Regions from separate parts of the Homo sapiens genome. Here regions 1, 3, 4 and 5 are each linked to region 2. The links come from fine-mapping of genetic effects on gene expression. A gene starts in region 2. Each other region holds a variant in brackets. All regions are shown on one strand. Distances are from middle to middle.

Region 1 (5,099 bases), 28 kb after region 2:
CAGGCTGGAGTGCAGCAGCACAATCTCAGCTCACTGCGGCCTTGAACCTCCCAGGGTTCAAGCAATTCTCCCATCTCAGCCTCCCTAGTAGCCAGGACCACAGGCATACACCACCACACCTGGCTAATTTTTGTATTTTTTGTAGAGAGATGGTCTCACTATGCTGCCCAGGCTGGTCTCAAACTCCTGGCCACATGTGATCCACCTGCCTAGCCCTCCCAAAGTGCTGAGACTGCAGGTATAAGCCACTGCACCCTGCAAAGAATTCTATTGATCTAACTATGCCGGAGTAGAGACAGATCAATATTATACATTGTATTATTTCCTGGGCCCGCCATAACCAATTACCACAGGTGGCTCAGAATTGTGGGAATTATTCTCTCACAGCTCTGGAGGCAGAAATCCAAACTCAAGGTGTCGGCTGGGCTGGGTCCGCTGAAGGCTCTCAGGGAGGGTCCTTCCTTGCCCCTGCCAGCTTCTGCTGGTTCCTGGCGTTCCCTGGCTTATGGCCGCATCCCCCCAACCTCTGCTTCCATCGGCACATGGTCTTCCCGGCCTGTGTCTCTGGATCTCTTCTTCTTATGAGGATACCAGCCATGGGGTCAGGGCCCACCCTGCTCCAGAACTACCCCCTCTTCACTTGACTACATCTGCAAAGACCCTATCTCCAAAGAAGGTCATATTCTGAGGCTCCAAGTGGATGTGAATTTTGTGGGGATTTTTTTTTTAGTTAACACATAATAACGTACATATTCATAGGGCACATGTGATATTTCAATACATGTATATGATCCCATTTCAACAAGTAACGATCACAGCAGGTGACTGGTATGTCCATCGCCGCAAACATGTATCTCTTCTTTACGTTGGGAACATTCTGATTCTTCTCTTCTAGCTATTTTGAAATATATAATAAATTATTAACTGTAGTCCCCCTACTGTGCCATAGAACACTAGAGCTCATTCCTTCTGCCCAACTGTAATTTTGTACCCATTTACCAATCTCTCCCTATTCCCCTCTCCCCGTCACCCTTCCCATTCCCTGGTCCCCAGGCTCATCCACTTTTCCTCAAATGACAGAATTGCATTCTTTTTTATGGCCGTATAGTATTCCATTATGTATTTGCACTTCATTTTCTTTATGCATTCATCCATTGATGGGCACATAGGTTGATTCCATCTCTTAGCTATTGTGACTACCACTACAGTGAGAATGTGGGTGCAGATGTCTCTTTCACATGCTGATCTCCTAGTCTTTGTATACATACCCACTAGCAGAATTGCTGGGTCATATGGTAGTTCTGCTTTTAATTTTTGGAGGAATTTCCATACTGTTGTCCATAATGGCTGCACTATTCTAAATTCCCACTAAGAGTGTATAAGAGTTACTTTTCCCTGTATCCTCACCAGCATTTGTTGTTTGGTTGTTTTTGTCTTTTTGATAATTTTATTTCTATTTTAAGTGGGATGAGATATCTCACTGTGGTTTTGTTTTCTGTTTTTTGTTTTTGTTTTTGTTTTTGTGATGAAGTCTCGCTCTGTCACCCAGGCTGGAGTGCACTGCCACGATCTCCACTCACTGCAACCTCCACCTCCTGGGTTCAAGCAATCCTTCCACCTCAGCTGGAATTACAGGCATGCATGACAATGCCCAGCTATTTTGTGTATTTTTAGTAGAGACAGGTTTCACCATGTTGGCCAGGCTGGTCTCAAACTCCTGACCTCAAGTGATCCACTCGCCTCGGCCTCCCAAAGTACTGGGATTACAGGTGTAAGCCACCACGCCCAGCCCTCATTGTGGTTTTAATTTACATTTCTCTGATGATCAGTGATGTTGAGCATTTTTTTCATATACTTGTTGGCCCTTTGTATGTCTTCTTTTGAGAAATGTCTATTTAGAATACTTGCCCATTTTTAAATCTTATTTGGATTTTTTGCTGTTGAGTTGTTCAAGTTCTTTATATGCTTTTGTTGCCAGGGCTTTTGAAATCTCAGCCATAAAATCTTTGCCCAGACCAATAGCCTGAAGTGTTTCCCCTATGCTTTCTTCTAGTAGTTTCATAATAAGTCTTTAATCCATTTTGAGCTTTTTGTGTGTATCGTGTAAGGTATGGGTCCAACTTCATTCTTTTGCATGTGAATATCCAGTTTTTCCAGCACCATTTATTAGAAACTGTCCTTTCCCCAACACATGTTCTTGGTGCCTTTGTTGAAAATCAAGTGGCTATTAATGCATGGATTTGCATCTGGACCCTCTATTGTGGTCCATGTGTCTATGTGTCTGTTTTTAGCCAGTACCATGCTGTTTTGGTTACTATAGCTTTGTAGTATATTTTGAAGTCAGGTAGTGTGATGCCTCCAGTTTTGTTCTTTTAGCACCAGATTGCTTTGGCTATTGGGGTGTTTTGTGGTTCCATATGACTTTCAGGATTGTTTTTTTTCTATTTCTGTGAAGAATGTCATTGCTATTTTGATAGGGATTGCACTGAATCTGTAGATCACTTTAGGTCATATGTGGGGACATTATTAACCATCATTTCTTCAACCTAAAAGTTCATTTCTTTCTTTTGATTTTAAAAGACATTAAAACATCACTGTGGGTCCCTGCAAGTATCATGGGCCCAGGCGCAGTGTGTCCTGGAGGTGCCACCCCATCTCCATCCACCCCAGCACCTGGCACATTCTCCCGGCACACAGTAGGTGCGCACCAGGCTGCCTTCCTGCAGGGGTCCCAGCAGCTAGAGAGAGGTCAGCTCGCCTGTGCTTTCTGCTCCCCCTCCCCAGTTATCACCTGTGCCTCCTCCTGGGTGCTGGGTGGATAATGTTCTTTGCTGTAATCTGCTCCTTCCGAGGGTGCCTTCCCACTGGCCGCCCTGCACAAACAGCCCCACTCTGGCTGCCACCCGCCCGGCTCCAGACTCCTGATATGAATGCAAAGGTTAGATATTCTTGACACCGCTTTAATTTTTCAAATAGCAAGCCAGTTACCAAGCACGTTGGCACCTGGGCTCGGTTCCCCCACGACTTGGCAGGGCCCACGCAAGCTGCTGGCAGTGATGGATGC[A/G]TGCCCCTCGGCACACCCCCCCCCCACCCACCCACCCGGCCGCAGCCACGCCAGCCCCAGGACCTCACGCAGCCAGTCCCCGGCAGCTGTAAGGCCCGAGTGCCAAGACACAGAGTGGGCTTTTCCAAGCGCCGGGATCCGGCTGGGCGGGCTTCCCAGCACGGCCTCTGGGAAATGTGTGCAAGGCCTCCGTCAATCTGTAGGGACTAAGCTGCTAGGAGGGCCTGGGGCTGAGCGATTTCATGTTTTTTCCCACCCACCTGGCCTCACCCTCCCTCAGCCTCCTCGCCAAAACAAAATCACTTTAAAAATAAAAAGTAACAGGCAATGCAGAGGCTCTCAGAGCTGGATGGAACTTAGCCATCAGAGGGTCCCATTCACTCATGGTACAGTTGGAGACACTGAAGCTGCAACCAGGAGGCTGAACAGCCAAGACTAGAGCCAGGGTTTTGGCTATCAGAGGGGACAGTCGCTCAGCAGTTCTCAGGAGCATGCGAGCCAGGCAGCCGGTCCGATTCCTAGCTCTGCCACTCGTGAGCTCTGCAACTCCGGGCAAATCTCTTCACCTCTCTGTGCCTCAGTCTCCCCATCCACAGAGTACAACCCACACAGGACCTGCCTCTCAGGCTATTGTCAGGACGACGGTGTCATCAGCATATGGGGAGAGGTGGGCCTCAAGCAAGGCTGGACAGTCGCCGCATGGGGTACAGAACCCTGGAATGGTAGGGTCCCTGAGGAAGGTCAGAGTCAGACCCCTGCGGCAGGTGAGACACAAAGGCCATTCCGGACCGCACTCCACAGTGAGGCCAGCACCCGCATCCATGCACCAGGCCACCAAGAAGGGCCGTCTGTCCGCCAGGCACCGTCTGGTGCTGCTAGGTCTCTGGGAAGGACTCCAGCTCCTGACTTATGGGCACTGGCAAGTACTAGGTAGACAGACTGGAGCTCGAGGGGACATCAGAGCCCTCTGGACAGGCCCAGAGAGGGGCTGCATGTGGCCCAAAGCACCCAGCCCAAGGACTCAGACCCCACCAGGTTGTGTGCCCTCCTCAACCTCATAGCAGATAGGGCTCTGAGGCAAAGCCCCTCCCCTGCCTGCCTCCCTTTTGAGAAGCCTGAAGCCCCATCTGATCAGCCCTCGAATGTCCACTAAATGCCTCTAAACAGGAGGTGGGGTTCAGCCTCTCACAGACAAGTGTGCCTGAGAGCCTCAGGTGAGCCAGGGGCCACTCAGCAGAGGCACAGGCTGGAGGGACAGGGCCCTGGACAGGTGCAGTTTGATGAGGGTAGAAGGACACAGATGACGCCTGGGCCAGCGTCACCCACACACCAGCCCCTGGCCACACAGCTGCTGATCACTCTGTACATGGCTGGTGAGACTCATAAACTGTGGGGGTTTTTTTTAAATATATTTAATTTTAATTATTTTACATTTAAAAACTGAAGCAATAATTGGATTATTTGTAACTCAGAGGATAAATGTTTGTGGGATGGATACCCCATTCCCCAGGACGTGCTGATTTCACACTGCATGCCTGTATCCAAACATCTCATGGACCCCACAGGTACATACACCTACTACAGACCTGCAGAAAAATTCATTAAATTTAATTTTTAAAAACTGAAGCCATGTGGGCCAGGCGCAGTGGCCCACGCCTGTGATCCCAACACTTTGGGAGGCCAAGGCAGGCAGATCACTAGGTCAGGAGTTCGAGACCAGCCTGACCAACATAGTGAAACCCTGTCTCTACTAAAAACACAAAAATTAGCTGGGCGTGGTGGTGTGCACCTGTAATCCCAGCTACTCAGGAGGCTGAGGCAGGAGAATCGCTTGAACCCGGGAGGTGGAGGTTGTAGTGAGCCAAGATTGTGCCACTGCACTCCAGCCTAAGCGACAGAGTGATACTCCTTCTCAAAAAAAAAAAATTAAAAATACTGAAGCCATGTGAAATAGCCTCTTGTTCAACACAACTTTATTGTCTAGGTAGGACATTCAACATGTAGTGTCTGAAGTAAGAGGTGCTCTCAATGTAAG
Region 2 (5,099 bases):
ACCTGAGTCCTCTGGCTTACCCAGCTCTTCCTGCAGGCATATTTATAAGGAATTGGAGGCAGAGAAGGTCTTAAAGCAAGACCCACCCCCAGGACCACTCCCTGCAACCGGGGACCCCAGAACCTGGTGATGGACCTGCAAGGCCGGCCCCTCCATCTCCCCACATGGCCAGCTGCCTCTACGGGACAGCCCTGGTCAGTCTGGGAAGGCACGATCCATCTCAGGCCTCTCTGAGCTCCTGCCCCAGGGGTGGGACATGGGGATCATGCGCCTGCCCTGCTCCCCTCCCTCCCACCACCACTGGAAGGGCCGGCTGAGTCTCGGGACAGGGCGCGTGGAGGCCGCAGCCTGCAGAGGCTTAGTCCTGCTTGGGTTTCTGGGGCCGCCGCTGGGCCAGTCTGTAGTCGATGTAGGTCCCGAGGCAGGACCACAGGATGAGGCGTGCTAGCAGGATCACCACCAGCAGGGCCAGGAGCGGGTCAGGGCCAAAGCTGCCACCTGGCCAGGAGGTCATGCCTGAAGTCAGCCCCAAAGGGCAGCAGCAGCCTCTGCCCTGGAACCGAGATGCAGTGGGGCCCTGCCACCCTAGCCCGGCACTGCCAAGTGGCTGCTGTGCAGACCCAGGACAGGAAGCTCCGTCCAGCCTGGGGCCTCTGCAGCCGGCGCCCCCAAGGGACCGCCCTGTTCTCTCTGGTGCCACCAAGCAGGCCAGATCTGCCCGCCAGACTCCAGCCCGGGGCCTCCCTGGCATGTGAGAGGACAGACTGGGGACGACGAGCAGCCTCCTTGGTCAAGAGGCCCGTGTACCATTCATCCAGAATTAACCACTCTCCGTGCTGACAATGACAGCATTGTCCAGGGGCCTGGGGGGCGGGAGGCCGCCGGGAGCCCGCCCCCCTCGCTGTCCCCGCGCCCCCTGCTCGCCAGCGCTGACGTAATCTGCAAACATCCCCGGCGGCAGCTGCTGGGCGAAGCGGCCACCTCCTCCCGACGCTTTCAGCAGCCCACGCGGCTCTTCCGGCCCCGCCAGACAATTGGGCCCTTTCTCTCCCCAATTAGCTATCACTTCTGGAGGCCGCGCCGTCCAGCGCCGGCCCACGGTCTCCGCAGCAGCAGGCCCGGGATGGGGCGGGGGCCGGGAAGCTTGGCAGGGAGGCTGGGGCCACCACGGGGAAGAAGGACGGAGCCTGAGGATGAAAAGCCAAGGAGAAAAGGGGAGAAGATGAGGACAGGCGGCCACAGCCCACAGGCGGCCCCAAACACAGCTCAGCAGCACAAGGACCGCGCTCTGGGCCTCTGATGGCAAGGGGGTCAGCGCGGGAAACCGGCTTCATCCCCCAGGAAGGGGACCGGTGGACCCCCAGCAGCACCTCCCTCCAGCTCGCCCCTCCAACCTCCATCAAGAAGCCTTAGGTGGGACCTGTAGCCCTAAGCTGGGGCGCACAGGCCTGCAGGGTCCCCTGACATCCTCACAGTCACCCTGGACCGGAGGCCAGTCCTGCCTTCTACTAGCTGAGTGACCTCGGGCAAGTTGTGCAACCTCTCAGAGCCGCAGATCCTGCCTTAGAAAGTGAAGCAAATACCTCCTGCTTTGAAGGATTAGGGGAGAGAGCACTTCTCAGGGGCCACGCCCAGCGCCTGGGCACAGAGATCCTGGCCCCTGCCTCTCAGTGGATGCCTTCAGAAAGGCCTCCACATCTTTTCTGAAATAACAGTGTCTGCCCAGCCTTCTCTGACTGCCACACGCGCGCACACACACACACACACACGCATACACATGTATACATGTGTGTGCACACAGACTCACACGTGTGCACACCCAATAAGGACACATTGACCTCTACAGGCTCTGCCCCCCAAGTCCAGCTCTGGCCTCTCACAGCCGAGTTTCTGTGAGTGAGAGATAAACCGCCAGAACTGCCCCCTCTAACTCCAAGCCTACATCCTGTAAAGCAAAGGGGCCCCAGTTGGAGCTAGGGGGCTGAGCGTGAGGAACAGAGGTCTCTGGCGGCTGGGTCCTGGGAGTCCGGCCAGTTCTCACCAGCAAATGTCCAGCCTGAGCTACAGAGAACAGCAATGGGGGCCTTCCTGGCCACAGGGATCTGGGGCCCATCGCTGGTCGCCGGAAGCCAGCTCTTCAGTTCCTTCCCAGTCTACAAAATGAGTGTCCTCCCTGCCAAGCCTTTCCAGAAGGTTCAAACGGGACCACACGTTCAAACGGGAAGTGGAGCATGATGCCAACTCACCTTGGGCCGGGCACCGCCTAAGCTGCCTTCCCGCAGCCACCCTGGAGCCCCTGCCTGGACTGGCAGAGGCTGTCTGGGAAGCATGCCTGGCCCTTCCTCCATCTGTGGTGTGCCCTGCACCCACTGGGCTGCCTGGCACTGCTGTCAAAGGCCACTCACTTAGGGAACGTTGAGCTCTGGGCTTGTTTTCCACGCGCAGCGGTTTGAAGATCACTTCGAACGTGGGTGGGGAGTTAGCTCTCTGGACCCCGTCATAGAGTAAGTCATCGATAGAGCATTTGCTTGATGGGGACTTCCAGAAGGCCAGGGAAAGTCCTGCCGACTTCCTGGGGAAGCCCATCCGCACGTGGGGTGAGGGTCCCCAGATGGGAGCAGCTGTGTATGCAGGGAGGGGGCAGAGGCTGCTGCCAATGGGCATGTCCCTTACCTGAAAGGGCCACCTCTCCAGGTGACATGTCCTGGGGGAGCCGGGGCCGTCTGCTCCGGCCAGAGGCGCTCAGCTCAGGCCACACCAGGCAGGGCACCTCCCAACCTGGACAGGTGGGGACCAAGGTGGCCTTGGACAAAACTCTCTGTGTTTGCCAAGCACCCAATCGGACACAGAGAGTCAACCACACCCCAGTCACATGGTGTCCACACGCAGGGGTCAAGGAGGCCCGGCCCCTCCCCCTCAGACGTCCCTGGGCCTCTGGGAGTCAGCAAGGACGAGGACGGCATGCCCTTCGAGACAGGAAGGGAGTGACCTCCTCCCAGCGGCATCCAGGCTCGGCTTCTCCGGAGAGGAGAGGGGGCTACTTGCTGGATAAAGCGGCCGGGGCCACAGAGAAAAAGCAAGTGACCATGAGCACGTTGCAGACACAGTGCACCGACAGCATTGCAGCACGGGGACTGTGAGACCTCCCATTCTCGGGGGAAACTCCCCAAGTCCCCCCACCATCAGCAGTGATGTGACTGGGGCGGCGACCTGTGCTGGGAGCCTCCACCAGCTCCTGCGCCTCAGGCCCTGCTGCCCTGCACCTTCGCTTCCAGTAGGACCCTTCTCCAGGGCATTCTGGGCCACAGGAGCCACCCCAGTGCACAGAGACCCGAAGGCCCAGGAAGTTCCCTCCCCCAGGCAGCCCTTAACCTAAGGCTGACCTGGGCAGGACGTAGCCCAGCTTCCCTGCTTTGGACCAGGACAAACTAGAGGCCACTCTGAACCCCCAGAGCTCCCCCTGAAAATCCCAGGGACGTGCGGCTGTGCCTGGAGTCGCCCCCTTCCCAGACTGCTCCCCTTCATCTTGCCCTCCCTGCTCCTCCCTCCTGTGTCTCCCCATCACACCACCCCCCGAGTTACCCGCCTGTGAATATAATCCAGGATAAGAGTGACGAGCGCCTCATCAGCGCAGACCCAGACCCCGCCAATGGGAACGCATGGAGCTGGGCGGTGGTGGCTCCCAGCCCCGGGCCTCTGAGGATGGATCCGGGGATGCTCCCAGCCCCGGGCCTCTGAGGATGGATCCGGGGATGCTCCCAGCCCCGGGCCTCTGAGGATGGATCTGGGGATGCAAGTTGCCATCGGGACCTCAAAGAGCCAAGGCATCTTCCTGCACCCAAATGTTCAACGCTGACAGAGCAGTGAGTGACGCACCCTCACTCACTGTTTCCTGATGAAATGCTTGGCAGAGGAAACCTCTCCACAGGTGAGCTCCGTGGGGAAGGCCTGGAGTGGAAGTAACAAGGAGGTGCAAGTTCTTGCCCCCAAAGCCTGGTCCCCGCCCAGGACCAGCCCTCAGTACAGGTGACAGCCTGGGACAGAGCCCCAAGAACCTTGTGAACAGCTTCCTGTGAGCCCCAGGCAAGCTGGTCTCCACTGAAGCATCACTGGGCCTCAGTTTCCTCCCCTCAATAAAAGGGGAAAATAATCCTAGCACTTTGGGAGGCCGACGTGAGAAGGTTCAGGAGTTCGAGGCCAACCTGGGCAACATGACAAAACCCCATCTCTACAAAAAAAAAAAAAATACAAAAATTAGCTGGATGTGGTGGTGCACACTCGTTGTCCCACCTAGCTAGGAGGCTGAGGCAGGAGGATCACTTGAACCTGGGAGGCAGAGGTTGCAGTGAGCCATGATCAAGCTACTGTACTCCAGCCTGGGCAACACCTTATCTCAAAAAAAAAAAAAAAAAAAAAAAACGGTGAGGGGATGATAATCCCTTCCCAGCTTCTGCAAGCAAGGCTGGGGATAAGAGTGCTTTGCAGGGGAAATCCCCGCCCAAATGTCATCGAGATGAGCTGGACTTGGCTGACTCAAATGCAGGACCCAGGAATAATACTGAACGCCCTCCCCCAGGGACCACCAGGCACATCCCCCAGGGCCTCAGTGTGTTGGTTGGTTTTGTTATTTTCATAGCACCAACATCCTCTGAACTCTTCCATGTGTTTCTAGAACTCGAGCTCTCGCCGAATCCCCCAGGACTTAGCACAGTTCCAGGCACCCAGAAGACTCTCAGCAAGGACGGCCACGTGCATTGGAGCTGGGAGGCCAAATTAAAAGAAGCACGTGTTTTCCTTAGAACAGATTCCGCCAAAATTGTAAAACCACCACCTACAGCCTTGTTGACAGTGAGACATTCTCAGACATGTCAGGGTCCTGTTGAAAATCATTTTTTTCTTTGTTTCTTTTTGCAACAGCAAAATATGCTTGCTTTAACCAAAAAAAAAAAAAAAAGCAACCATGGCAGAGATGGGTGAGTTGGGAGAGCATGAACATCATCAACTCTTACTCCTGCCAAGACGGAGCACAGGACATGAGGACCCCGTCCAGGGCCCACGGGGAGCCTGAGTTCCCACCCCACGAAGGCCTGTGGCCCATC
Region 3 (5,099 bases), 52 kb after region 2:
GACAAGGAAACGTTCAAGATGGCCTTATTAAAGATAATCATCCTGGCTGAACAGGACAAAAATAGATTAAGTCCCTTCTGAACTCTGAGAGCAGGATACGTGGCCCAGCAGAGCATCACTAAACCAAGGCGGGTGGCAGCGGGGAAAGACTCCACGGCTTTCCCTTGGGTTTCACCACTTGGAGAAGCTTCCCAGTCGGCTGGCGTGGAAGCCCAGCTCCTCACCCCACCCCAAGCACAGGGCAGGCGCTGAGCCCCGGGCTGGCAGAGGTAGGGAGTGGGCTGCAGGCACGGGGCGGGGAGGGGGCCTCCGGAGCTGCACACAGGAATGTCAGGGCCTGGCTTAATTTCTAAACCTGCCATATGGCCCTGCGTCCTGGGACCCAGGCTGGTGGCCAAGGAGGAGCCCTGGGGCTCGGTCCACAGCCCTCCAGGCCGGCTGCACAAAGCCATTTTTCAAAGGTGTTTCCCAACAGTCTCTCTCAAAGGAACTGCCCTTTGAGAAGCTGTCTTGGGCTCGAGCCAGGCAGGGCTGTCTGGGGGCTCTTGGCAAACGTGCCAGCCGTCCCCAGATCAAAAGTGCCTTTCTTGGTTTGCTCACTGCCTCTCTGTGCCAGGTGAATGAGCTGTGGGGGCACCCCGGGCCGGGCAAGGCCAGAGTTGTCTTACCCAGACTCAAAGATGGGGGTGGGGGCTGACCACAGGTGCGGTGTGCCCCACCAATCCATGGAAACCCCAACCCACGGGGCAATGGCTCACGTTACAAAAGATCCATGGAGGGGCCCCTTCAAACCGAAGCTCCCCAAGGACGTGGCACTGTTGCTCAGGGATCATTCGCCATGTGACACAGAGAGGCCCAGACCAAGGAAATGTAAGGCCAGAGGGCTCACAGGCCCTGCCAGCTGACGTGGCCTCAGTCTAGACAGAGAGACAGGCAAAGTGGGCACGACGGGGGTCTGTGAAACCAACCCAACCTTCATTCACCCACCACGGGACCCTCCCTTCTGGGCAGAGACAGGTGCTTTCGACCCAGCAGGTGGGCGCTGACAGCTCCACTGCCACACAAGCCCCTGGCATCTTCTCGCTGCAGACACACTTGGTGGCAAGTGCTTGCGTGTGGACGCTGCGTGGCCCGATGTCCCATCGGTCAGTGTCCAAGAGGAAGGCTCTGGGATGCCGCTTACTCAGAGAGCCCTGCACGCACCACTCCCAGCTTCACCTGTGCTGCCAGGCTGGGACCAAGTCCACCTTGGAGATGTGGCTGGCAACTGTCATCGCTACCAGGTCCATCTCGCCGCCACTCACTCCCCACCGCCCTCCAATAATGCCAACAAAACTCACAGTGGAGCCAGGGTCTCGGGGGAAAGAAGAAAGATCTGCAAGAGCCTCCCCGACCATCTCCAGATGCCTGAGCCCCAGAGCTGACTTGCACGGAGGCTGATCTGCATCGAAGGCTGGCCCCGGGCCAGGCACCTGGGAGGGCTTTGGGCCCATCTCCCACCTGTCCTCGCCTTAAGCCAACAGGGCAGGAACTGTGGTTATTCCCGTTCTGCAGATGAGGCACCCAAGGCACAAGGAGTCTGTGCAGCCAGCGGGTGGAGGAGAAGCTGGGGCCACCCCCGGAACATTTCTGAGGACACCATTCCTGGCCCTGTACAAACCGACTCTGTCATCTCCATTCGCTACAGAGAACCAGCAACTGATGCCAGTGCAGTGCAGAGAAATAACGGGCCCATTTTACAGATGTGGAAACTAAAGTTCAGGCAGGTCCAATAATTTGCCCAAACACCAAACAGCTGCAAATGGCAAGGCTGGGATCAGAAGGAAGACTGGATGCTAGAGCCTCCCTGGCCCCCATCCCTTCATTCCTGATACCTGCACCCCACTCTCTGGCCTTCACCCCTCCCAATGCCTAGCATGCGGCCATTCAAAGCAATGCTGGGTTCCGCCCCTCACCGTAAAAATCAAAAAGCTGCCTGCTCGTGAATGCTTGTGAGAGAGAAAACACCTGGAAAGGTAGAATCAGGTG[C/G]TCCTAAAATTCACATCCACTTGGAATCTCAGATGTGACTTTACTTGGAAATAGGGTTTCTGCAGATGTAATAAGTTGAGGTTATACTGGAGCAGGGAAGGCCCTGAATCCAATACAATCGGTGTCCTTATAAGTAGAGAGAAATGTGGACACAGACACACAGGGGAGAAGACACATGAAGGGGGAGACAGAGACTGGAACGATGCAGCCACAAGCCAAGGAACACCAGAGCCGCAAAAAGCCAGGAGCAGCAAGGAGGGACGCTTCCCTAGGGCCTTCAGAGGGTGCCCAGTCCTGCTGGCACCTGCACCTGGGACTTCTGGCCTCCAGAACTGCAACACAGCACATCTCCATGGTCTAAAGCCACTCAGGCTGTGGTACTTTGCACAGCAGCCCCAGAAAATCAGCACAGCACCCAGCACCCTGCATCTGGGGGTCAGCTCCCACCTGTTCCTACCACATTATTGGCCAACTGAGGATGGGAGTTGAATTTTGTTCTGGAACAAATAATAATAATAAATGCCAGAACTCGCCACCCCTGTGCTCGGGTCCCCACAGCCTGGAAGTGTGGCCTCTCTGGAAAGCATTCCTGCTTGCCCCAGCCAAGTGGGTGGCCCCTCTGTAACCTCTACCAGATTCACTTTTCCCCCATGTCTCCCGTCCAGCCCGGAGTCCGCCTCCCGGGGCCACTGCCCCCATGCAGGATGGAGCAGAGCTCGCCATCCTGCCTGCCCCATGGTCATGTGGAGTCGCTGCCTTTCAGTTATACGGCAGGACTACTTGCCAGGTGGAAAGTGGGACCATCGGCCCTGGCGCCGCCAAACACATTCTTGGCAACTGAAACAAATGCCAGAGGTAGATGAGCCAGGCAAGACTGCCTCCCAGAGGGGGCACACTGCCGGGCCTGCGAACCCTTCATCAAACCCCAAGGAGCCGGTGAACGTTTGATGAGGGTCCTGGGGTCTCAGGCCCTTCTGCCTGGGCCAGTCTCATGTCCCGCTCGAGTGACGTGGGTCAGCAGTTTCCCTCCAGCCCAGCCATGGCCATCGTTGCCCACCTGCCACCTCTCAAGGGAGGAGGGCCCCCACTCCTCCTTCCCAGCTCTACTGAGAGGTCTCCTTGCCTCCAGCCACAGAGCCCCTGATGCACCCCTTCCTCCTGGCCAGAGCACAGGCTGTGCACCGCCTGTCCCCACAGCTGAGCTAATACCGCCACCTTTGGGCACTCAGACTGAGGCAATATCCCCCACCCGTGTTCTCCTGTCTTCACTGGGTGACTTCTAACCTCAGACAGTTCCCAAAACAAATGCAATCCCTTTTGCCTGTCAGAGTGGCCAACACCACCCTGGTTTCTGGAGGCAGCCAGCCCAGGTGTACTCAGGGGCAGGCGTGTTCCAGGATGTTCTGAGCCCCAGCTCCCTCCTCTGTAAGTCAGAAGTGAGGATGCATGAGTATGCACAGCACACTTCCACACAGTGTTCCCGCTGTGGCCACCGACGGAGGTCCAGGGTCCCCCAGGCTCTGCTCTGATGCTGGCCCAGCACCCAGAGTTTTCCTTGACCATTTTTCCAGGGCTGTGCCAGAGGCTGGGTGGGCTATGCCAAGGAGAAAAAGCAGGGAGGGGGCGTGGGCAGAGCTGATGGACAGGCAGGGCACCCGGGGCCCAAGCCACTGCTGCACTCAAGGAACAGACATTGGGGTGACCTCAGCAATTGCCTGGATGTCTGGGCCTCAGTTTCCCCTCTCAGTCCTCCCTGCCCTGTCCACTTCCAGGAGAAGGGGCTGTGCAGTGCGGGGGGAAAGGTGGAGCTGTCCAACTTGGCCTCTGACAGCTCCCAACCTATTTCCCCTTCTGGGACTTTGGCCCTGTCTGCAAAGCGTGACCCCCCTCACCAGTGGCCCACTGCATCCCCAGACACAGAGCCTCTTTTCTTTGCCCCAGTGAAGGCTGAAAATGGCCTTTCCCTAAGCGCACTCACCAGCAAGGGGTGACTGCAAGAGCCTCCTGGAGACCCGGATTTCTGGGGAAATGAGGTGGAATGAGTCGCATACCCACAGAAGCGCAGGGTCTTTTGAGCACCTCACATGCCCGGGGGCACTGACGTGGCCCACCCGGGGAGAAGGGAGTCTGAGTGTCCCCACAGTGGCTGGCAGGTGGACAGACCCAGGGGATGCTCCAGCCCCACCCAGCGGGAACCCCACAGCCAGAGAGGGCCCCATCAGTACCCTGCACTCCAGGTGGCCGGCTGGCCTGGTGGTGGGAGCCAGCAGCCCACCTCATCACACCCTCTCCCCACTAAAAGCACGCTACCCTCTCTCCTGGCTAGAATCTAACAAGTGTTGGTTGTCACTGCCACCACACAGATTCCCCTAGGGTCTCTTAGGCAAGGGTTGTAAGGTTCCCAGCACAGGCCCAGGAAGGCTGCCAGGAGGAGGAGGAGCTCCTGCCAGGAGGGGACTCCCCCTGCCTTCCCAGGCCTGGTGCTGAGCGAGGCAAGGAGGGTACCAGGGCCTGGGCACTGGGTCGCCTGCCGCTAGGCTCTGCTGCCCTCCGCTGGCTTACCCAGGAACTGCGTGTGCCCAGGGCAGCATCTCCAGGTGTGTCTAGCCTGCCTACCTACTCTACCTGGCCATGCCTCTGGACATGCAGGGCCTCTGTCGCAGGCCCTCACCTGTATGCAAATTATGCTCTGAGGGCATCTTGTAGGTTACAAGCCTCCGGTACCCAGGCCCAGCTGGGACGGGCTCAGTCATGCCTGCCCTCATCTGCTAGGTCTACGATGCTCCTTCCCTGGTGCACACTGGGGGTGGCGATCGCTATTCAACACCATCTGGGGCTTCTTCAAAAGGTGATGACGTCACCCCTGAGACAAGGTGGGCATTGGGACCCAGCACCGATGTGGGACCCAGAGGTAGGAGGCTCGCAGCCCTGCCAGGAGCCCCCTCTGCTCACTTCCACCTCATCTCACACACCAGGAACCTGAGGCCAGTGGAGAAGGGGCCACAGTGCCTGTGCCCACAGAGCTGGGCTCATATCCAAGACTGTGTCCCCTCCAAGCCCAGCTCATCACT
Region 4 (5,086 bases), 69 kb after region 2:
CCCCCTCCCCCACCATCCCACAGGGGCTATGGCGTGGGCTCAGCACCTCTGAAGGAAAAGCAGATGAAAGAACTTGTGCCTCCCAGGCGAGAATGCACAGTGCAGGGGCAACCCTGGCAGGGCCCATCCCTTCCTGGTCCCGCTGAGCTCGGGCACAGACCGGGCACCAGGCTCGGTGTGGAGTGTGATGGGGAGTGGTGTCCCCGGAGTTGTTTCTGGGAGTTGCTGGGTCCACCTTACCTTAAATGTAGTCAACCAAGTCCCATCCCACCACTAGATGGCACCCAAACCTCAGCAGAAAGGGGGCGTGGGTTGGCCCCTGAAGTGAGAAAACCATTGGTCAATCTGGACCTGGCGTGCTTCAGGTGACAACAAGGCTTTCCACACACTGCTCGCTCGCCCCACCTCCCCACCCCAGGCCCCCTGCCACACACCTGAAGACACAGGAAATAAGGTCACCCATTGGCTTATACATGCCTTTGAGCAAAACAGAAAAGGTGCCCCTCACTGCAGGTAGACAGCCCCCCGCCAGGATACACCTCACAGCCATGTGCCCTTGTGCAATGCACAACCCAAGCAACCTTACTCAACAACCCTACTCCAGAGAAGCAGGACTAGAACTGTGCTGAAGTGAAGAATGACAATCCCATTCTTTGCAAGACTTATTGATGAAAATAACTGGCAATCAGAACCCTAAAGAAACACACCCAGTCACACTCATACAAGCCATGAAATAATAAAACACAGTCAAGGTTCTCTCCATGTCAAACCACCAGCATCCCCACCTGAATGCCCCGGAAGTCTGACGGTTAACCTGTGCAGGCCCTGGTCAGGCCTGTGGTCCCCAAGGGCTGCCGGCAGCAAAGGCACCACGGAAGCTGCAGGGGACAGGGGAGGCCGCTGCTTCTTGCATTTTTGTCTGAAAGGTCCCTGTGGAGTCGACGAGGGAATTCTCACTGAAGCAGCTATAAAAGAAAGCGGAGGGCACGGCGCCTCCCTGAAGCACCAGCAGCTGTTCTGTAGATGGTTGTTGGGCCACACGCAAAGGACTTGGTTCCTGTCCCCAGCTTAGTGGTCCGTCAGAGGAAAGGTCTCTTCCTGCCTGGCTGGCCACAGCATGGCCGCCTCTTCCATGACGGGCACCTGTGTAGGCCAGCCTCTCTCTCCTGCCGCCCCTGCTGGGACGGCAGCCCGGACGTCACCTGCACAGCCACAGGTGCGGGTGCTGGCTCAGCCTCTCTGTGAGCTCATCCTCCCCGGGCTCCTCCAGAATATCCCTGTGGAATTGAGGAAAGATGCACACAGGGGCCTCTAAAGGAGGGAGACCCTGGCCTGCCCACAAGAACAAGGGAGCAGAGCTTAGCAACACATGCGAAGTGAGTGTCACAGGGACACAGAGACACGGGGACTCAGATGAGCCTCAGGATGGATGTAGCCACTAGAAATATCTACACGGCATTCTTAAAAGCCCAGGGGCCACGTCTTCCCACTGGCTGGCAGGACCGCAGGGCTTGGCTGCAGCAACTCGGCAGCCCCTGGTGGAAGGCACAGAGGCCCCACAGCAGGGCTGCCTCTGGGTGGTCACTTTTCTGGACTAGCAGAGGAACCATCTCAAAGCTGCCAGGAGAAGAGATGGGTGCGTTTTCCTCAGGTCCCTTGTTTACATCCAACAGGATCCAATGGACCCTGAAGGATGGTGCCTTAAATATGCCCAATCCAAGAGCAGGAGAGCAGGACAAAGGCTATGACGCCAGTGGCAGGAAGAAGAAGCCGCCCCGATCCCGGCTCTGAGCTGCTCTCCTAGAGCACAGGACCAAAGCCAGATAACCGGGCGGAGGGGGAGGACAGTCATCAGGGCCTGCCCGCCGCCTCAACCCCTCCACCCCCCAGCTCTTGGCTTCCCATCCCAGGGGGCCAGACAGAAGCGCCTTCCCCACCCACACACCTGAACAGGAGCTCCACAGTCATCTGGTAGGTGGCCTCTGGGGTCCCAGCAAGGGGCTGCAGGTGGCTGCGGGGGTCCCACTTGTGAAGGAAGTTCTGGCAAGCAGGAGGAGTGGCCAG[T/C]GAGTGTGGGCCCCGAATGAAAGCAGCCTTGCCCCATCCCCGGCCCCTCCAGGGTCAGCCACAGGGCACCCGCTGAGGGGGCTGAGCCATTCACCCTGGACACCCAGGCACAGGCCCCACGAGGCTGCTGGCTCCTCCTGGAGCCAATGTCCAAGTCCCTCCTTCAGCCCGACCTGGGGGCCTGAGAATCCCCACAGCCCAGATGTCAGGAGCACCCCCCAAGGCCCCAGCAGCCCAGATGTCAGGAGCACCCCCCAAGGCCCCAGCAGCCCAGATGTCAGGAGCACTCCCCAAGGCCCCAGCAGCCAGGGCGGGCAGCACTGAGCCCCACGGGAGGGGCTCAGCCTCACTCAGGACCCGCCTAACCCAGCACGACTCTCCCATCAAAGTTCCAGGCAGGCCCGGCCGGTGGCCTCAGGCCCATCGAGAGTGAATTAGAAACAAACGACCATGGAGAACAGCCTGGGTGGGGATCTCTGATACCTCCAGAATCAGGGCCAGAAACAGGTTGACCCAGATGACAGACGACACCAGCCACCACAATACAAAATAGATCTTGGACCACCTGCGGAGGACAGAGACCCACCCTGTGAACCACGATGAGCAAAGCAAGAGCACTCGATACAAACACCACTGCTGCGTGGCCAGGACAGCTCTCGGGCAGCCGGCCCACACACACCATGATGCAGAGCGCGTTACTATTTCCATCTCAGAAACAACCCAACTGAGGCCTAGAAACGTGCAACAAGCTGCCGAGGTAGCTAAGCCAGCAGGAGGCGGTGCTGGGATTAAAACCCAGGACCATCAGCTGGGGCCAGTCTGAGCTCTTCAAGCTCAGAGCTGAACTATCTCGTTCACTCAGCCTTCCCGGGGCTCCCCCACCCCCATGGAATTCCTCAGAAGCCCCAAACACACCAACGACCTCCAGGAGGTGTAAACCCAGAGTCACTGGCCACCATCCTGAGAGTCACGATGTGGCTATGCAGGGGGCAGGGACAAGGCAAGCCAGGATGCCACGCTGGCCGACTTCCCTGTCAAGGCCCGAGTCCCCGTCCCAGCCACGCTCCGGGCGTCCAGTGCAGATGCAGCGTGCCCGGAGGTGAGGGAACCCCCAGGCTGCACGGAGAATCACTGCCGTCAGGGAGACGAGGACTCACGGGCCTGAGTAGCGCCGATATGCATCCAGAAACACCTGCCAGTTGTTCACCACCATCAAGTTCCACAGAGTGACCAGGGCAGCCTGCGGGGGCAGAGACCAGCGGTCCAGGAGGGCCCAGGAGGTAGGGAGGGGAGGAGCCCGGGGAGCAGGGTGCTGGGACAGGGCGCAGGGCTCACCGCAAAGTCATCGAAGTTGTTGGCCCAGTACTCCAGCTGCTCGAAGCTCCCACAGGGCGCCGAGCCATTGGCAGGGGCCAGGCTGGGGAACACAACACACCTGGGTCAGGGGCGGGGGCTCCAGGTTCTGAGGCCTGATACCTTACACCCCTTTCCTCTGCTGGCGTGCTCAGCCTGGCCTGAAGGTACAAATTGGGATACAGAGGCTCAGAGGGCAGGGAAAGTGCTGCTCTGAGCAGGCCACGAGAAATGTGTTTAGCAGACTCCAGGCAAGGGCTCCTAGGAGAGGTGCGGAGCGGAGGTGGAAATTGGGGGTCGGGAAAAGGGGGTGGAGGGAGGAGACGAAGGAACTGGGAGAACACCCTCCCATCCTGAGATGCTGAGCCCACTGAGGCCACCGCCAAGGCTTCCCGCCCACCCCAGCACCCCTGAGACACTCCCTGTGGCACCTCGGACCCCACCTCACCTGCTGTTTCCAGGAAGAGCCACAATGACGCCTCTAAACAAGTTGATCCCAATGATGGCAAATACGTAGTAGACCACCTGGCGGGCCAGGAGCCGGGGACTGATCAGCCCCACCCATGGGTGCACCCACCACCACCCTCCCCAGACAGAACCGCAAAGCCAGAGGATGACTGTGAGGCCAGGACCCTCTGCCCAGGGCTGGGATTCCAGCCTGGCTGCTACTTCAAAACACACGCAGCTGGCCTCCCCCAGGGCTGGCGGGTCCACAGACACAGTGGGGCTCAGGCAGGCGTGGTCATGGAGCTCCTAAGGGAATTAGGGCCCTGCCCCCAGGTACCCTGGCAGCCACAGTTAGGGGACAGGCTGCCCGCCAACCCCAGGCCTGTCCCTAACATGCGTCAGCAGAGTGGAAGGGGTACACGCCTGGGCTAACCTGGTCCCCTTTCTGGGCCTCAGTTTCCTCTGCTGTGCAAGTTAGGGGGCTGGGCAGACAGCACCTGAGGCAAGATTCTCTTCCCAGCGTCTATTTCCAGAGGCGCGAGGCACAGCTGGGGTCCAGCCCAGAGCACCCTGCGGCCCCAGAGACACCTTCTCACCCCAGTGGTCCCTACGTCAAGGTGGTCAGAATAAAATGGCAAAACTGCCTGAAGTGTGGCCGGGCTTCCTGCAAAGGGCGCCTCCTGTCACTCTGCACGGCGCGGATCTGGGGCCTGCCTGGTCACAGGCCCCTCTCCTGCCCAAGCCCGGCCACCAGGCAGAGCAGATGGGCTCCTCAGCTGGAAGGCTGGCCCCCAGGGAGGGGCCGGGGCGTCCCACAGTTCTCGCTCAGCAAATGTGGCTGTGAGTCCCTGAAATTCCTCTAAGAAAGGAGCCTCGACCAAGTCCTCATCCCAGGGCTTGTGCAGGCTTTGGGGTCCCTGGAGCAAAGCCCTGCGCCTCTTAAATTTCTGTCATTACTTTCTCAACGAGATCCACAACCCAGAAAACACGAGAGACTCAAAAATTACCAAACAGTCTCTGCCATGGGAGGGAAGGATGCTCAGGCAGGGCCACCAGCCACACCACCCGAGCTCCCTGCTGTACAAAGAAGGGGATGCCTCTGGCTTCTTACCCCGACCCTGTACTTCCCTGGCCTCAGGAACCTGCTGCCGTCCGAACCCAAGAACCTTCCTACCGACAGAGCAGTGAGCCGGCCCGGCACTGCCTTCCGCCAGCCTCCCAG
Region 5 (5,099 bases), 33 kb before region 2:
TCCACCCATGGAGGGACCGATGGGCAATGTCCAGGTGGAAATGGGAGACGACGTCACAAGATTGCCAGGGGACATGAGCCCACATGGCTGGCGCCACCCAGGAACCCTGCCCCTGACGGCCCAGGGAGCAGTGCTGTGTAGTGGTGCCATTTTGCGCCTCTGTCTCTGCAGATGGAGACACTGAGATTCAGAAAGATCTCACCATCTTCCCAACATCACGTGGTTGAACGGGGTTGAAACTCAGCCAAGAACCCACCTTCCAGCCAGGGCTGTGTCCACTGGGAGGACCATTTATTTATTTACTTATTTATTTAGAGACAGGGTCTCACTCAGTCTCCCAGGCTGGAGGGCAGCAGTGCGATCATAGCTCACTGCAGCCTCGAACTGCCAGGCTCAAGCAATCCTCCCACCTCAGCCTCTCGAGTAGCTGGGACCACAGGCGTATGCCACCATACCAGGTTAATTTTTAATTTTTTTGTAGAGATGAAGTCTTGCTATGTTGTCCAGGCAGGTCTTGAACTCCTGGCCTCAAGCAATCCTCCCATCTCAGCCTCCCAAATTGCTGGGATTACAGGTGTGAGCCACCACACTCAGCCTGTCTGTTTTTTTCAAACTAAGTTTTCTATTAAAAACTCCATTCAATGAAAAGTTTCTTTAATACATCAATTTTATTATTATTTTGTTTATGTCTGCAAACTACTATGGTAAACAACATGAGCCCTCATGGTAGGGACCCAGGAAGGTGCTTGCATTCTTGGGCAAAGTTGTCTCACATGCCTGCCCTGGAACAGGCCGGGAAGACACCACCTTCCAAGATGCCTCTGATGTCCAGTGTCAGGTTCTACCAGGGGCAGGATGGAGTTTAGCCTCTCTCCACTGTCTTGAGACTGCCAGTCCCCAGGCAAGGCCAGAGGGGCAAACTTCAGCCATGGTAGCGGCCAGGCACCATTACTGTCCACCGGGAATCTCCATCTCCGGCCCCCGCCTTCTTTCTACCTGCCCAGGGCTAAAGGACTTTGGAGTCAGGGAGAGGAAGCCTCTGGTAGAGTTTGGGATCATGCAGCCCTGCCTTCTGGCTCTTTAGCTCGATGTTGCCCCAAACCCAAGCTTGGGCACCTGCCTCCATTCTTTCCCCCGCCTCCTGGCCTCATTCATCCAGCACTGACGAGGGCAGTCTTGGGCGCAGAGCAGTGAAGCTGTCCAATGCTGAGGAGACTTGTCACACACCCATTATAGGCCAAAGTTCATTCCAGGTATAAGTCACAACTCCCCTATGAGGCAGAAGCATTCATCTCCTTCTAGAGGTGGGAACACTGAGGGACAGAGAGGTTAAATAACCCAAGGTTACCCAAATATTGGTGCTAGAGACAGGATTCAAGCACAGGCAGTCGGCTCCAGGGCCAGTGGGTTCCTACAGCCCTGTGCTGTCTGTCAACAGTGTTCCAAAAGAGGTCGGAGGGACATCAGCTCTCAAATAAGGCAGGAGAGAAAGAGGCAAATGAAGCAAGAGATAAAATGTGGAGGGTTTGGATGGGATCCTAGGTTTTCCCTCCTGCACCCCCATCCCCAGAAAAGGAAAGAGTTGAACTAAGTGCTAGAGGCCACCTATCCCTGCAGGGAAAATGCTGTCTCCTGATGGGGCCCTACCTCCTGGGGTCTTTGCTGAACAGTCTTCATAATGATGATGACAATGAAGATGACAACAATGGTGACAATGACAATGATAATAATGACAGTGATGACGATGATGGTGGTGGTGATGATGATGATAATGATGATGATGGTAGTGGTGGTGGTGGTAATGATGATAATGATAATGGTGATTATGATGACAATGATGATGATGGTGGTGATGGTGGTGGTGGTGGTGGTGGTGATGATGATGATGACGATGATAATGGTGATGATGACAATGATGATAATGGTGATTATGACGACAATGATGATGATGGTGATTATGATGATGATGGTGATGATGATGATGGTGGTAATGATGGTGACAATGATGATGACAATGGTGGTGATGATGCTGATAACAATGATGCTGATGGCATTACTATTAAATGGCTATGACTGGGGTCCTGGCCCCCATTCCCTCTCACCTATGCAAGACCTTTCTCCTGCAGCTAGGCCCTCTTTTTCTTTGATATTATCTCCTTCTCTCATTCCCAAGAGCACATAGAGGCTGTGTCAGTTGTTATTGCTGCTACAACAAAACACCACAAACTTGGTAGCGTAAAGTAACAGACACTTATCACTCTACAGTCCCAGAGGTCAGGACAGGTCTCACAGGGCTTGAATCCAGGTTCCTTCTGGAGCCTGCGGGTGCAAATCATTTCCTTGCCTTTTCCAGCTTCTGGAGGCCACCAGCATTTCCTGGCTCGTGCCCCTTCTCCATGTTCCAAGCCAGCAACACTGCATCTTTCTGTGCCTTGCCTCCACCATCACAACTCCCTCTGATTCTCCTCTTACTCCCTCTCTTCCACTTTTAAGGACCCTGTGATGACACTGGGCCAAGCTGGATGATTCAGGATGGTCTC[C/T]CTATCTTGAGGCCTGCTGATTATTAGCCTTAATTCCATCTGTGACTTTAATTCCCCTTTGTCCTGTAACCTAACATGTTCACAAATTTCAGGGATTAGGATGAAGACATTTTTGGGGGCCACTATTCTGCCTTCCACACACAAACGGTGATATGGTTTGACTGTATGTCCACCCAAATCTCATCTTGAATTGTAATTCCCATAATTCCTGTAGCTTCCATAATTCCCACTTATCATGGGAGGGATCTGGTGGGAGGTAATTGAATCATACGGGTGGGTCTTTCCCATGCTGTTCTCGTGACTGTGAATAAGTCTCCTGAGATCTGATGGTTTTATAAAGGGGAGTTCCCCTACACATGCTGTCTTGCCTACTGCCATGTAAGACGTGATTTTGCTCCTTGTTCACCTTCAGCCATGATTGTGAGGCCTCCCCAGCCATGTGGGACTGTGAGCCAATTAAACCTCTTTCCTTCATAAATCACTCAGTCTCAGATACGTCTTTATTAGCAGCATGTGTTCTGGTTATTCTGTTTGAATAACACTGCCCCAAGATGGAGTCACTCAAAACAACAATCATCATTTGTTATCTCTCATGGCTTCTGCCGGTCAAGCAGGCACAGCGGGGATGGTTTCTCTCCACCCAGTGACATCTGGGGCCTCAGCTGGGGTGGCTCAGAGGCTAGAGACAGAACCACCTGAAGGCTCATTCACCTTCATGTCTGCCAGTTGAGGCTGATGTCAGCTGCGGGCCTGGCAAGGGCTGCTGGCCAGAACCACACATGGCCTCTCCATGTGGCTTGGGCTTCCTCACAACATGGAGGATGAATTCCAAGAAAGAGAGAGTCAAATGAAAGCCATATTGCCTTTTCAGCCCTCAACTCAGGAGCCACAGGGCGTCACTCCTGCCATATACTCTGTCAGCGTACAGGTCTGCACAAGCTCAGGGACAGGGTCACTCTTCCTCTCAAAGGGAGAGTGTCGACCTTACTTTGTAAGAAGAGCAGGTGGAATGGGAGATATACAGGGGGCATCATCTTTGGGACCTGCCATCTTCCCTAGCACCTCAGACTGAGCCTGAGCCAGGCAGAACCCTTGAATTTTTCCCCAGACATGGCGGTCCCCTTGCTAGATAATGGCATCCCCATCCTCATGGTATTTCAGGGCAAAAGTCTGGGCATTGTCTAGAGGGTGGCAGGCCATGCAGGTCAGACACTGGAGGGACCTGGGCCACGAAGCCTGGCAGTTGGAGACCCTTCTGTTGGTTCTCACTGTGGGAAGTCACGAAGACCCCGCAGATCCTGGGCAGCTGTATGACCTGGGCAAGCTGGCGGGAAGCGACAGCTCCACAGACTCCGAGACAGAGAGGCTGCAATACTCCTCCGCCCGATTGCCTCATCCCCCAAAGGGCTTTGATAAATGGAGAGATAGGCCCGCTAATTCTTGGGTGCTGCAGGGGGAGGATGTCCTGTCACCACTAAAACGGGCCCGGACTCCTTATCATGCTGTCACTCTGCAAATCACCAAAGACAGGCTTACGTCACCCCCTCAGAGGGGCTTCAGAGGGGCCTCTAATCCTAATGGATTTGCCCAAGTGGAGATAAAGAACCTTCTTGTTCCTCCCATAATGCAGTAATTCACTTTACAAATAGAGCCAAGGAGAGTGGTTGGGAGTGGGGGCTGGTCAGCCACTCAAAGGGCCAGTTTTCCCGGGCAGGGGATGACATTCTGGAACATTCTGCGCAGGAAGGCTGATAGCACCAATCCAGGGGTGGCAGGGATGACTTCCCTGGGGATGCCAGGGTCATGAAAATGGGGCTCTCAGACCTGAGTTCAAAACTGAACTCTCACTACATATCAGCTGTGCCATCGTGAATGTATTGCTTAGCCACTCTTAGCCTCAATTTGCTTATCTGTAACACAGGATAATCAGTGTAGCCATCTTCAAACACTGCTGTGAGACTGAAATGTGGTCCAACGCAAGGCACAGGGCACAGGGGAGGGTGCACATAAAAGGTTTCTGTTCCTATTGACAAGGCTGCTGTGATCGCTGGTGACCAAGAGTGGAGAATACAATGGCACTAGGGCTGCCAGCAGGGGAGCCATAGCCCTGGGTTCACATCCCAGCACGACCACTTACTGGCTGGGAAGCTGGGGTGTGTTCACCTCTCCTGCCTCAAATCTCTCTATGGCAACCTGGGTGGTGTTCATTATTCTGAAATATTGGAATGATCAATAATCCAATTTTGGCTTAACCAATAATTCTGAAAATATACAGAAGCGATGTGAAATTAAGGGGATTAAATGAGGGGAGGCATGTGAAAAGTGGGTGCCAGTCCTTGAAGGATGGGGGCAGCTGTTCTGCATGGTCACGAAGGTTAGGAGGACAGGGTCCACCCCACCCTATGGGAGGGAGGCAAAGCGTCCTGGTTGGAATCTACCCCCAACTCCAGTAAAGTGGATTCCCTGGGCAGGGGATGCTGAGAGGGTGGGGTGAAGCCAGGCGCCAAGGAGCCTGGAGCTTACACAACTGGACAGGGGCTCTTTAAGAAAAATAAGGCC

What was found.
Region 1: its variant is fine-mapped to the expression of SMIM38 in cerebellum (GTEx, PIP above 0.99). The same link has a PIP of 0.9 or more in sigmoid colon.
Region 3: its variant is fine-mapped to the expression of SMIM38 in whole blood (TOPMed, PIP above 0.99).
Region 4: its variant is fine-mapped to the expression of SMIM38 in whole blood (TOPMed, PIP above 0.99).
Region 5: its variant is fine-mapped to the expression of SMIM38 in left ventricle (GTEx, PIP 0.94).

Annotation. Positions count from the first base shown.
Region 1 is chr11:69,125,251-69,130,349 of GRCh38, reverse strand. No RefSeq gene overlaps it. Among named protein-coding and RNA genes, the nearest start is that of SMIM38, 28 kb to the left of the region's middle. The variant A/G (reference allele first, on the strand shown) is at 3,065.
Region 2 is chr11:69,153,262-69,158,360 of GRCh38, reverse strand. It overlaps SMIM38 (small integral membrane protein 38), which reads right to left and starts at 2,426. Exons shown (of 3, transcript NM_001369201.2): 1 at 2,247-2,426; 2 at 1-1,187. The coding sequence starts at 514. The coding sequence ends at 359. All of the region lies in intron 2 of LOC338694 (a long non-coding RNA gene), which reads left to right. RefSeq lists silencers at 701-1,060, 4,306-4,600 and an enhancer at 1,945-2,872.
Region 3 is chr11:69,101,054-69,106,152 of GRCh38, reverse strand. No RefSeq gene overlaps it. Among named protein-coding and RNA genes, the nearest start is that of MIR3164, 20 kb to the right of the region's middle. RefSeq lists an enhancer at 3,508-4,008. The variant C/G (reference allele first, on the strand shown) is at 2,029.
Region 4 is chr11:69,084,066-69,089,151 of GRCh38, reverse strand. It overlaps TPCN2 (two pore segment channel 2), which reads right to left. Exons shown (of 25, transcript NM_139075.4): 20 at 3,866-3,942; 21 at 3,400-3,481; 22 at 3,222-3,304; 23 at 2,548-2,629; 24 at 1,946-2,040; 25 at 1-1,277. The coding sequence ends at 1,199. Among named protein-coding and RNA genes, the nearest start is that of MIR3164, 3.4 kb to the right of the region's middle. RefSeq lists a silencer at 260-399 and enhancers at 2,566-3,065, 3,066-3,567. The variant T/C (reference allele first, on the strand shown) is at 2,065.
Region 5 is chr11:69,185,970-69,191,068 of GRCh38, reverse strand. No RefSeq gene overlaps it. Among named protein-coding and RNA genes, the nearest start is that of SMIM38, 33 kb to the right of the region's middle. The variant C/T (reference allele first, on the strand shown) is at 2,541.